Regions from separate parts of the Homo sapiens genome. Here all the other regions are reported to be linked to region 1. Evidence: microRNA targets listed by miRTarBase, many of them from high-throughput screens and not tested one by one. Region 1 holds a microRNA gene; each other region holds the end of a gene's coding sequence.

Region 1 (4,183 bases):
ATTTCAGGAGGAGGGCAAGGCCCATGGAAAGCCCCCTGGCATCTTTAAGAAAAAGCAAGAAGGCCAGTGGGATTGAACCGAGCTGCTGGGAGTCGCTGGGTCTGAGCTGGGAGAGGCAGGACTCCAGGTTTTATTCTGAGTGAGATGGGGGATTTGGAAGGGTTGTGAGCAGGGGGGATGCGTGGTCTGTGTTGGAAAGATCACTCTGACCACAAGGGCATTGATAGAGAATCTACCCAGGGCAGTGATGGGGAACCTACCAGGAGCCTGGCGTGCCTGAGCTGGGCAGTTTCTCTAGGGGCACCTGCAGTGGCAAAAGGGGGCCCCCTCTGGACCTCCCTAGTTCAGTGGGCCCTGCGGGAGCCTGGCTGGCACCTTGATGTGCTTGATGGATAACTCAGTGTGCTCTGTTGAGAAGTCCAAGGCCCTGTTCAGAAACCCTGGGGTCTACACACTGCGGAGTGCTCCTGGCGTGTGACAAGTGGCTTCCCTCTTCTTATTTCTAAACCTTGTGCGTGTGGATTCAGGACCACAATTTCAACTCCAGGGAAGGGGGACTGTGCCAGCACCACTCCAAGGGAGGTGAGTGAAGGGTTGCCCAAACTCCAGTGTGTTCCTAGGACACCCGTAAGCTGCCTCACTAATGCTCGGTGTCCACTCTGTCCACAGGATGGTGGTTGGCAGCCACTCCCCTTGGAGAAGTGGAAGGGGACTCCTTGTCTGTCTTGTCTCTGCTTTTCTGTGGTACTTGAAGAGAAGTTGTTCGTGGTGGATTCGCTTTACTTATGACGAATCATTCACGGACAACACTTTTTTCAGTACCAAATGCTACCTCTAAGGACTTCCTGGACACAATGGCAGCTTCAGGAAAGATAGTCTTTGTGTCAACCATGTGGAAAAGCCAAGAATGGATGGCGGGCCATGGACAATGCGCTGACCTAGCTGTAAGTCACCTGGCCCGATAATCCGAGCCTCCCATGCACCTATAGGAGGTCTTCCCATGGGTCTCACCAACTCTGGGGAATCAGCTGTGGTTCTGTCACCAGCGTCACCTCACAAGACTTTGAAGAGAGGCTCCCTGGGCCCCAGGCCGACTTCCAGAAGAGATGTTGGTGTCAGCACCGTCCAGGGTGTGTGACTGGTTGACCAGAGGGGCATGCACTGTGTTCACCCTGTGGGCCACCTAGTCACCAACCCTCAGCATCACTCCCACTCCAGGAAGACTTTCCAGAGCTCCCACCAACTCTGGGGAAGCGGCCATGGACTTGCTGTGACTGCTTGGTGGACTGCGATGACACGTGCTCTTGGGGGTGTATGTTTACTTAAAATGCAATGAGTCAGCCTTGGCAGCCCCTTCACCACTGTGACAGCCTCCTTGAAGTGTTGACTTCCGATGTGGGACGCCATGTTGTCTTCTGTTGAGGGACCTGATGTGGGCCAGCTTTTCTCCTGGGTGTGTGACTGAATCCTTCTTCCCAGAGCATGTGCTGCCTTTGTTAGGTCTGTCACGTCGTCCTCTAATACCCAGCATCCTGTCTCTCCCTAGGAGGCTCCATGGAGATAATGCGGCTTTGGGAAGCGGCCATGATTCTCCTGTCAGGGACCAGTGAGCTACGCAAAAGCTCCCTGTCTTGTCTGGAAGGACGAACTGCATCCTTGCTGCTGGGGAGAAGGCAGTGCCCTCAGCACTCCCTTAAGGTAAGTGCGCCTCGGGTGAGCATGCACTTAATGTGGGTGTATGTCACTCGGCTCGGCCCACTACCCAATACTATCCCACCCATTCCTAACAGGACTCCCGAGAAGGGCGGCCACCTCTGCCAGAGAGGCAATGGATTTCTCACCAGTGTTCATGTGTGGTACTTGGAGAGAGGCTGGCCGTGATGAATTCGATTCATCAAAGCGAGTCATACACGGCTCTCCTCTCTTTTAGTGTCAAATTCTGCCTCGGAGGGCTTCCTGAGCCAGTGCTGCTTCCAAGGTAGGTTTCTGGATGGCTGACCCCATGGCAAGCATTTTCCTGAGGATGCATGTAACTGACCTACTAACTTTAGAGTCCAAGCTGACCCTAAAACAACTTCCTGGGGCACTACCAACTTTAGGAAAATCGAGAGAGGTTGTTGGGATGCCCTAATTTTTTAAAAGTTAAGATTGAAATACACATGGCTGACTTCTTTTTTTATTCCTATCAAATTCAACCTTGGAGTTGAATCTTGGGCATCTAGAAGCATCTTTTATTAGTCAGCCGTCGGGATACAGAAGAAAACAGGAACAGGACTCTGTGCGACCCCTGGTTTACTAACCCACAGCAGCCTTACACCCTCCAGAGAATTCCTGTAAGGGAATCCCAGGTTTACCAAGGAGGCAGTGCTTAGCCTGCTTTTGCACACACATTTGTGTGTGGTTTGCTTCATATTTAATGACTCCTGTGCCACTGACATCCTTGCATTATTAAATGTTGCCTGCATGGCCAGCTGAGCACAAGAAGTGGTATTTCTGTGCACACTAATCCTGGCTTGGTGAACCTGGGGTTGGCCGGAGAGCATGGGTTTGAGCCACCTGGTCCACTCATCCTCAGGGTCCCATCCACCCTCAGAGGCCACTCCCAAGCTGCCCAGGCTGTGCAGAAGATGCAGGAATGCTGCGAGCAGTGCCACCTCATGGTACTCGGAGGGAGGTTGTCCGTGGTGAGTTCGCATTATTTAATGATGCCCAATACACGGTCGACCTCTTTTCGGTATCAGATCTCACCAGGTGTCTTCTTGGACCTGATGCCGATTTAGGGGACACCATACTCATGTTGGTTCCACACCAGTGCAACTGAACATGTGTGTGGCCCTGGAACCAATGGGTAGGTGCTGCTAGCACTCCTAATCCTCAGCCAGTGCATTCCTGGGGAAGAAGCATGTGATCTGTGCTCAAGACCCCTCTGTGACTGAGGAAGTGGTGGTGCCCATGATGCTTCTGGGGTTTTGTGTTTTTTTTTAAAGAAAAACAATGTATAGTTCTCTTCTCTTTCACTATTAAATCTTACCATGGAGGAAGGACTTCTTAGACATGTTGACAAATTCAGGGAAGGGGCGTTGATTTCAGCATTCTTGGGGACTCACTGGAAGGGTGACTCACCACATCTGTTGATCTGGAGGCCACAGCAAATTTAAGAACAGAAGACAGTTGCATTTTCAATTTCTTGTTTTTCTTTTCAAAAAGGATAATTATTCTACCTTATTACCATATTTATGAAAATGACACATGCTTAATAAAATTCAAGCGATGTGGAAAAATCTAAATGAAAAAGAAGGAAAATTGCCCAATTCTCTGGCACCCAGAAATAACCATTAAGGGCTTTAGAAATTTCATACACCTGTCTGAGCATACATGCAAATAGAAAAACAAGACAGACGCAGGGAAAATATGAGATCACACTGTACCTAATCATTTTATTAAAAATGCTAACTATAATTTTCCTTGAATTTATCATAAAAAACAAGCTAAAGGAGATTGAAATGATTGATAAATGTTTCTCGCTTTACCACCACAGGTAGCAACTCCTAAAAGATCCCTGTAAAATTAAGAAAAATTAGAGTGTAAAAATTAAGTGGTTAGGATTGTTATGGTTTTTAACTATTTCAATTTCACTCCTAGTTCAGAAAGATAAAGAAGTCAGCATTCTTATTCTTCCTTTGCTTACTATCTCCTGCTTTTTCTCAATTATACATTTTAATTTTACATTATAAATATCTGCAATTTGTTCTAGAACTATAATTCTTGCAGGTGTTTTGCCATAGTTCTATATTTAAATGAATTCATTTCTGACCACAAGGTTTGTTTTTTTTTAACTGAGGTTTCTCCGTTCTTTAGTTTTTAAGTTTAATTTATCTCTCAATGGAAATGATCTTATTGTTTCTGTGAGAATAGCTCATAGACACTACCCTTGAGTTCCTGTGCATTTGAGAGTATATATCTCTTTATGCACAAGGGACAGCTTAACTAGGTATAAAAGTCTCAGCCTACTTGTTTTTTCTCAGAAATTTATAGCTATTGTCCACTGTTTTTTGCATTGAGGCTTTCACTAGCTGTCTTAATGTGGCTTCTCCATGTAGCTCTTACTTACCTGGACTATTTTATCTAGCGATCTTCACAAACCTTGTTGGAAAGACTTTGAGGTACTATGTTCTGTGAGGTA
Region 2 (4,183 bases), not on the chromosome of region 1:
GCTCATGTCTGGGTGGCGATATCGGCAACGCTTGCCTCGCTTGCACACATTCCTCAAGAAGTCTCTACAGATGGCATCTGAGCTGGCCCCGCCACTGCCTACCCCTGCCCCACTGGCCTCCTCGCTGCCACCACCTCCAGGGCCTCCACCGCTGCTCCCGGTACCGTTGGCATAGCTGTCCCGGTCAGGCATCCTGGTCCCGCCCAACTCAGGGTTTTCTTTATCTTGCCACTCTTGGTGACCACTACAAAAGAGGAGAACTGTATCAAACAGGAGTCCTCCAGGGAGATCCCACTCTTCCTGACTATAAAGCAGGTGGCCCAGAGGGGCAATGGCTTTAGAGATGGAGAATCTAAGGGATAAGAATTCTGGCTGAAATGTCTGACTCATCAAAAGCCCCTCCCAGGGTTTTGTGCACCTGGTCTGGGTCAGAATGATTCACACTTGCCTGGCTAACGGAGGAGGGATAGGCCCAGGACGGAGCAGGGAAAAAATAGTGTTGGAATTCATCTTTCCTTTTGAGCTGACCTTATTAAAGTTGTGGAAGTGAAATTAAAACTGCAGTCAGTATCTGAATAGTCTGGAAGGAAACTGGGAATAGTGCCCAAGATGGGCTACTGAGCTACTAGGGCTGTAGAAGATGGGACACTGGTAACAAAACTTCCTTAACCCCCTTTCCTTTTCCTCAGGTAAGGGCTCTGTACACATCAAATCTCTAGAAGCCAAGAAATCCTGGGTGAAGAGACTGGTGTCACCAGCTTGAGGGGAGTCTCAAAACCTGTCATATTTTAGTATTCCCTCCCAGCCATCATCACTGTCAACGGCAGAGAGGTAAGCCCCTTCTATTTCAGGATAGGAGTTCTAAGTTAGAGTCTCCACTTCTAGATTTCCTAGGACAAACCATTTGTGATAAGGTCAAGTGGGAAGGAGTTAATTTCACAGGAACAAGTGACCTTTCCCCATTCCCCACCCCCTTCCTACTCCCCTATGTGAAGATCCCACTGACATCCAACCACACCATTCCTCAACCCAGAAAGATCCTCTTTATTTATAGACTCCATAAAAGCTTTTTAAGTCTCCTATTTCCCAAGAGAGCTTTGGAATGTCAGTCCACTGCCCTGGTTCTAGCCCTCCCCTCTCTCCACCCCCAGTAAGACCTGGAGTCCCTGCTACCACGTGTCTGACCTCCCAAGCCTTTCCTATGCGGTGTTCAGGCTCCCCCTGCTGCTGAAATAGGAAAACTTCATATTGTTCCCTTTGAGAATAAGGGAATCTTTCCTAATTCCTTTGGCCTTGACCTACCCCCACCCCACTACTGTGACTTTGCCTTCAGATCTCCCTAAAATGAACTAACCAAACCAGAGGCCAGAGTTACAAGAGAATCTGTAAGAGGGTCCTCCTCCTCTAAAGAGAGGTAGTCCCAGAATAATAGAAGCAATCAAGGAAAGAAGTGGTAAAAGAAGATACAAACTTTTAGTAAAGGGGAATGACCAGGTGAAGTACAAATGCCATCTATCCAAGCCTGGCTCACGTTGCAAGTCGCACCAGCAGCAGATAATTAGTTATGATGCTCCTCCCCACCCCACTCTCCCAGAATTGATACCTGAGGTAGCTCAGGTGAAGTCCGGGGCTCCTGTGGGTCTCCACCTCCACATCACTGCTGGGTTCTGAGCAGGAAAAAAACAGAGACTTGGGTGGAAGAAGGAGTAAGAGTGGAGGACTATGGGGTGGTTGTCACAAGAAATCTGACAAAACGGCAAAGCTTCGAGAACGTGAGGATTTCCTCAGGGTTCAAACTGAACTTCACCTGTCCAAGGGAGAAGTTGCCAGTAAGAAGAGTAAAACTAATTCGGAGGGACTGGGAGGAGGGGTTGGAAAACCAGCCCTGAGTGAACAAAGAGTGCGGGGCGCCCTGCCTCAAGATGAAAGAGGATGTGAGGGTCAGAGCACCGCCAAGGGCTGGAGTTAGTAATGGCTAGTGAGGAACCTCAAAAAGGCAGCGTCTGACAGTGCATTGGGATGGCCGATTAGACTTGAAGGCAGTGATTGTGACGCTTCCCAACACCCTAGAGTTTGCGAAAGAAGTCCTAGGAGTTTTCCCGCAGCAAGTCTTCTAGCTTGGCAGGTTCCGTGCAGTGCCGCCGGCGCTCAGCCGTGGGCTACGTGAATGGGACACTAAGGGCGCGCGAAGTGAAGCGGGGAGCTGGAGCTCCAGGTGTCATCAAGCTGAGGGGATGGGCAGGGTTGTGACGTCACGAAGCTGGCGTTTGCTCGCGATGCGGGGTCACTCAGAAAAGGGGCACTGCCCTGGGGTGTGAGGACGAGCCAGCTCGGTTCTGGGGGGCCTTCTGTGGCCTGGCCGAGCCCAGCCGCTGGGCCGGCCCCGACTCCTCCCCTCCGGGCGCGGCCTCCACCTAAGTCTCCCGCCTCCCTCACCTGCCGCCGCCGCCGTAGTTGCTGCTGCCGCCTGCCGGTCCTCTAGCTTCGACAAAGAGCCGCCTACCCGATCGCTCTTCCGCTTCCTGCGGAAGAAGTGACGCTCTAGCCAGCAGACCCGGAACCATACTCTATGGTGTATGAAGTACGCGTGCGACATGCCGCAGGGCGTTCCCAGCACGCTTTGCGTGTCACTATGGCAACCCAACCCAAAGGCACGACATGGTCTAAGCGGTAGTCGCCAAGGCAGCCCTCCTGGAAAGGGGCGGTACCAGCATTGGCCCCTAATAACCCGCGAAACCTAAAACCTGCCTCCAGAGACGTACCATATCCCATCCAACTCCAGCGAGATGCAAACCACACCACGTAACCCGGGCTGTTGCCTTTATAGCTTTGATACCCTCCATAGCACAGGTAGTGACAGGGCAAACTCTAATGACAGAAAACCCCCACCCGATGGAACCATAAAAAACATAATAGACAAGATGATTTAATTCTTCAGCTAAAACAGCGGAAGAGGTGATTTATTATATGGTTGTTACACTCGGCCACAAATAAACACAGAAATAGTCCAGAATGTCACAGGTCCAGGGCAGAGGACCAACATGGGCATTTTGTTTATGAGCAAGGTGGGTCTCAGAGGTGATCGGCGATCAGAGGGCGATGAAGTTCTAGATCCATTGAGACAAGCTCTAGACAGTAGCATGCAGTCCCACAACTTGTACCAGCATCCCCAGCGTCTGGCATTCCATGTTTCTGCTCCTGTGGCCTCCACGGTGCAACAAGCTAGCGGTTTACTTGGACCTCTGCCTCATCTTTCTTCTTTTGCGCTTCAGCCTGAAAAGCAGACACAGGAATGGAATACACCTCAAACCAGAGTTGCCTTTCCCTCCCACATTAAATCAAACGTCCACATAAAGAATGAGGTGGTAAAATGAACAAGCACTACGGTTCTATCGTTCTCTGTTCTGTTAAATCCTGGCTCCAGGGAGAAAACACTCAAACGTTTTTCTCCTAAAGATCTTTTAAGATTTCCAAACCAAATGTTTCTCCTAAGTTTTGTCCAAGGAACTTCCCTCCTCCTGGGCTGGCAAAGTCTCAACGTACCTGCGCATTCGCTTCTTCCTCCACTAGCAACCGATCACAAGCAGCAGATAATTAAAAAAAAAAAAAAAAAAAAGGGATGAAGCTTATTAGTAGGCTTAGCAAGGATATGAAATGCACTCTTTAGAACCGGACAGATTCTTAACCAAGAAGTATGAAAGATTGGTCGTAACAACTACATCAGTAACTTGGACACCCTCCCAACATAAGATCAGAATTCCACCCTTTTCTAAGCCCACCCTCTCTACCCATAGCACTTAACCGCTAGCTCTCTCACAAACTACCTTCTCTCTCCCACCAGCTCTTGGGCACCCTTGAAACCCAGTAGTTCAGGAGGTATGGCGGACTTGCCTTCGTCTCCTCGCTACTACTCGCCAACTCCTACCTCCCAAGCTTACTACCAGGAACCGCTCACCTTGGCTCTCATGGCGCAGAGGTTTCTACAGGGAAAGAGAGAAAGGCTACAGTTAGTTTGCTGTGATGATGCTAAGTGCCGAGGTCAGATGTCTATGGATTGTACACGGAATCCCAACGCAGGAACCAAAAAACACTCACCCAAAAAAATGGCGCTAAGGCCGAGAGAAAGGCGAAGTTCCGTCTACGGCTATTTAATGGAGCGCCGGGTGTCGTCACTTCCGCTTTC
Region 3 (4,183 bases), not on the chromosome of region 1:
ACTCTGCAACAAGCCCCTGTAACCAATGGTCTTTGTTCCAAAACAGTTTACGTGGACTTCTTTTTGTTTTTAAAAGCTTCCCCTTTGCCACAACTCCTTTGGATGAGCCTGTGGTCTGCCATAGCATGCATATCCCAGATTGCAATCCCCTGCTATTCCCAAATAAACTCTGCTTTGGAGAGTTGGTCTCTGTTGTTCATTTTAGGTAGATATATCTTGTTGTTTAAGTTAACAAGTCACAGGATCAAGAAACACTTCATCTACACCTTCATCTAGATGAGATCCTAGAATTTAGGTCTCACATGACTGGATAAGATTTTTGGTCTTCCTTGAGGAGGGGCTGTGTGTTGTGTGTAATATAGGAGCAGATATTCATGACCAATTCACTTTCCCTACTTATGAGAGTATTATACCATCCATGTTTGCCACTCTGTAGGTAGAGTATGCTTCTCCAGTCTCATGTTAGGCTTGTCCATGTGATTTGCTTTGGTCAATGGTATATGAACAATTTGATTTACACCATATTCAAGCAGGAGTCTGAATGTGCTTGCATGGTATGGTTTGTCTCTTGCTCCTGCTCTTCACTATAAAAAGTGTATGTCCCAAGTAGGAACTATTCCATCAGTCTAGTGCCAGAGAAAGAAGACTGTGGAACAGAGCCAAGCCAAGCAAGCCAAGGTGAGTCGAGCAGAGCTGCGGCTAACTCCTAGACCCATGAACAAGAAACGTTTGTCAAAAGTCACTAAGATCTGGAGTTTATTGCTTGTATTAGTCTATTCTCAGGGAACACTCTGGGGGTAAAATAATATTTTATATATTAACTTTATTATATCCTTCTTTGTTTTTGAGACGGAGTTTCGTTCTTGTTGCCCAGGCTGGAGTGCAGTGGCGCGATCTTGGCTCACTGCAACCACCACCTCCTGGGTTGAAGCGATTCTCCTGCCTCAGCCTCCCAGTAGCTGGGATAACAGGCATGCACCATCACACCCGGCTAATTTTGTATTTTTAGTAGAGACGGGGTTTTCACCATGTTGGTCAGGCTGGTCTCGAACTCCTGACATCAGGTGATCTGCCTGCCTCGGCCTCCCAGAGTGCTGGGATTACAGGTGTGAGCCACTGCGCCCGGCCTATATCCTTCCTTTCTATATGACTTTGAGTTTCTCTTGTGTTGAAGAATTTAAACACCAAATTTCTAATTCCAGCTCATTTTATTTTTATTAAAGTGCTTCAGTAGATGAACAGTGTTATCAACAATCAACACAAACTTTACTGAAATATTCACAAATAAAAATCCTCTGTAAGTCACTAAAATGTTTTTCTATGTAGTAAAAGTAATCACCATTGGAGACTGGTGAATTTGAATTTATTCCTAACCACATACATGGTTTATATATTAACTTTATTATATCCTTCTTTGTTTTTGAGACGGAGTTTCGTTCTTGTTGCCCAGGATGGAGTGCAGTGGCATGATCTCGGCTCACTGCAACCCATACATGGGTTCTCAAATTGGAAGATTCAACCTGGTTACCTTAATATATGGGGCTGGCTGTCAATACCTGAAAGCTAGTCCCAGCAAGTCTGTGGAAAAAAATGATGTGATTGGAAACTAATCATTTATCCTTAGTGCTTCAGTTTCTCCATCTGCACTGAGAAGTAACCTTCCCTTAGAAAAGGGTTGTAAATAAATACAAAATGTTAAAGCTTAGCATACTTCTGTGCCTCAAAAAGCATTCACGTACATGCTTTTAAAAGGGCAATTTCTTTGTTCTTGACATAAATTGAATACTATCTGGCTTTATAATAAATTGATGGATGATTACTCTTTCCTTGAAAATTATCTTTTTACTCAAATCATATTAAAATCATACTAGCCTGACTGTAGATTAATTTACAGGAGTTGTGCTCAGTAAATTATTTTGATTGCAGTAAGGACTACTGTCCTACTTAGGTAAAATTTACAAATTATTTTAAAAAGTTTCATCCATTACTTAACATTCTCCAAGACCTATCCATAGAGACAGAAATCCTGGTACTTTAAAGCACAAAGAGGCAAAATCCAAAATTTACTTGTTAGATTTTGGTATAGCTCCTTTGGATACTGTCAAGTATTTTATTCATGTCCTTGAAATGATACTGTGGTTGACGAGGGGCAGAGTAAATAAGCAAATTTTGACTATATCACCCAGCATAAAGTGACCTGGTGCCATCATAAAAAATTCAGTAGTGCCTAAGTTGGGGGAGAGGGGCAACATGTATAGTAAAAAAGCTTGAAGAGGCTGGGCATGGTGGCTCACACCTGTAATCCCAGCACCCTGGGAGGTGGAGGCGGGCGGATCACCTGAGGTCAGGAGTTTGAGGTCAGCCTGGCTAACATGGTGAAACCCTGTTTCTACTAAAAATACAAAAAATTAGCCAGGCATGGTGGTGCGTGCCTGTAATCCCAGCTCCTTGGGAGGCTGAGGCAGGAGAATCGCTTGAACCCGGGAGGCGGAGGTTGCAGTGAGCCGAGATCGTGCCATTGCACTCCAGCTTGGGCAACAAGAGCGAAACTCTGTCTCAAAAAAAAAAAAAAAAAAAAAAAAAAAAAAAAAAGCATATGATCCTAACTAAATCAGAAACTTTTTTAAAAACCTTGTTTATCTTGAGAAGTATGTGATTCTGCTGTAAAAGAGAAATATAAAGAGGCTGGTATATCAACTCTCACATTTTCAATGAAATGTGCAATACTTTTAAGTAGAGACAGTATTGCTAAATCTCCACATGACACTTTGAAACTGCTAGCAATAAACGGGAAAAAAATCATTAATCAACACTGCAGAAAAAGAAAAATGGTAAGCTGTGATGCTTTTACTTTTCAATTAGAAAAATATATTGATCACGACCACAAGTGGACATACCATCTGAATAAATAAAGCCTCCTGTAGTTAACTTGTCATTTAAAAAATGAATTAGATGAAAAGGATAATTTTCTGCAGTATGCTCAGCCATTTGAAGACTGGAGTCATTTAAGAAAAACATGAAACATCCTTAGAGAGGACCTAATTATTTCATATTGGTTGTGGCTCTTTAAAAATGGCAGAGCATTCCATGCCCTATACAGAGTACACAAGGAAATAATTTTCACATTGAATATAGATCTCTTACAGAATGAGGAAAAAAACACTTTACACAACACACTTTTCGATAACATGCAGTATTGAGGGAATAGTAAATCATCATCCTTCACAAAGAAGGTGCAGGTGCTCTAAAATAATCTTAGAGCTAATGATTTCAGAAAGAGGCTTCCAAATTTGAAATTTAAAATGCAAACTTAATTTCAAAGTTGGTTTTTCCAAATCTCTGATAAGTCCTAGGAATCCAGTGTGAGCAAGAAGAAAACTTTCTCCCTATTTTATGACTTGTACCTCCCACTATCTGTGATGAATGCCATGGGTCAAATGCCATAACAAATTTCCTCTTTTAGAGCCAGCAAAGTCTAGCCTGGTTGTAGCCAAGACTAAAGCAGGAAAAGGTCCTACCAAAGAGCTTGTCTAGAATTGATCCACCAAAAGATTTCCAAGGCCAACTGGGCACCCAACTGACCCCAGGGCAAGTTGATCATTTTATTGTGATTCAGGATCCCACCCTTGCACCATCTTTAGGCCCAAGAGCCCCCAGAAGAGCCCTGAACTGGTAACAGCGCCTGTATGGACAGGGTAGGCAGAGCACAGTTTATTGGAGCTGACCTCTATCTATTGATGCTTGTTGACAAGAACTTAGTCAGTGATTCTGGAGCAGCTCCTCCCAACAGATGGGCTGTGAAAACACCTCTCTCTCGAGCCAGAGCTCATATGAATAGTGGAAATCTTCAGGCAGATCCAACCTCTGCCCCAGTACGCTCTGCAAGCAGTTATCCACAGGTGAAAACTCAGAGTCCTGGGGTCTGTCATAGCGACGGCTGTTAAAAGCCTCAATGTTGGCCCTCAAGGTACATTCTTCTGCTTGGAAGTCCCATGGTCTGGCATCGATGTCTGTGTTGGAAAGAGAGGAAGAAGAAGACATACAATGCAAGACACTGCTCCTCTTATCACAGAGCATGGTCTATGGGATTCCAAAAATGGAACTGCTCAGAAATTCTTTTTTTTTTTTTTTTTGTAAAGAGCAATGTATGAAGTTAGTATACAGCATGCTGACACTTAGGTTT

The links. The annotated mature microRNA hsa-miR-323b-5p reads AGGUUGUCCGUGGUGAGUUCGCA and lies in region 1 at 2,673-2,695, shown strand. An mRNA with a match to its seed (bases 2 to 7 or 8) in the 3' UTR can be bound and repressed. Matches are read on the target gene's strand: a 7mer-m8 pairs with bases 2 to 8, a 7mer-A1 pairs with bases 2 to 7 and ends in A, and an 8mer does both.
Region 2: the mRNA of RPL41 is a reported target of hsa-miR-323b-5p. Seed matches in the 3' UTR shown: 7mer-A1 at 2,969-2,975.
Region 3: miRTarBase lists STRIP2 as a target of hsa-miR-323b-5p. Seed matches in the 3' UTR shown: 7mer-A1 at 3,482-3,488 and 7mer-A1 at 3,054-3,060.

The regions. Positions count from the first base shown.
Region 1 is chr14:101,053,561-101,057,743 of GRCh38, forward strand. MIR323B (microRNA 323b) reads left to right here and starts at 2,659; the gene lies at 2,659-2,740. It overlaps MIR382 (microRNA 382), which reads left to right and starts at 746; the gene lies at 746-821. It overlaps MIR134 (microRNA 134), which reads left to right and starts at 1,127; the gene lies at 1,127-1,199. It overlaps MIR668 (microRNA 668), which reads left to right and starts at 1,698; the gene lies at 1,698-1,763. It also overlaps MIR485.
Region 2 is chr12:56,116,572-56,120,754 of GRCh38, reverse strand. It overlaps RPL41 (ribosomal protein L41), which reads right to left and starts at 4,122. Exons shown (of 3, transcript NM_001035267.2): 1 at 3,956-4,122; 2 at 3,544-3,566; 3 at 2,788-3,273. The coding sequence starts at 3,967. The coding sequence ends at 3,231. It overlaps ZC3H10 (zinc finger CCCH-type containing 10), which reads right to left and starts at 2,489. Exons shown (of 3, transcript NM_032786.3): 1 at 2,437-2,489; 2 at 1,604-1,667; 3 at 1-244. The coding sequence starts at 192. RefSeq lists a silencer at 2,765-2,814.
Region 3 is chr7:129,485,406-129,489,588 of GRCh38, reverse strand. STRIP2 (striatin interacting protein 2) reads right to left here. Exons shown (of 21, transcript NM_020704.3): 21 at 1,190-4,010. The coding sequence ends at 3,760. Among named protein-coding and RNA genes, the nearest start is that of SMKR1, 15 kb to the left of the region's middle.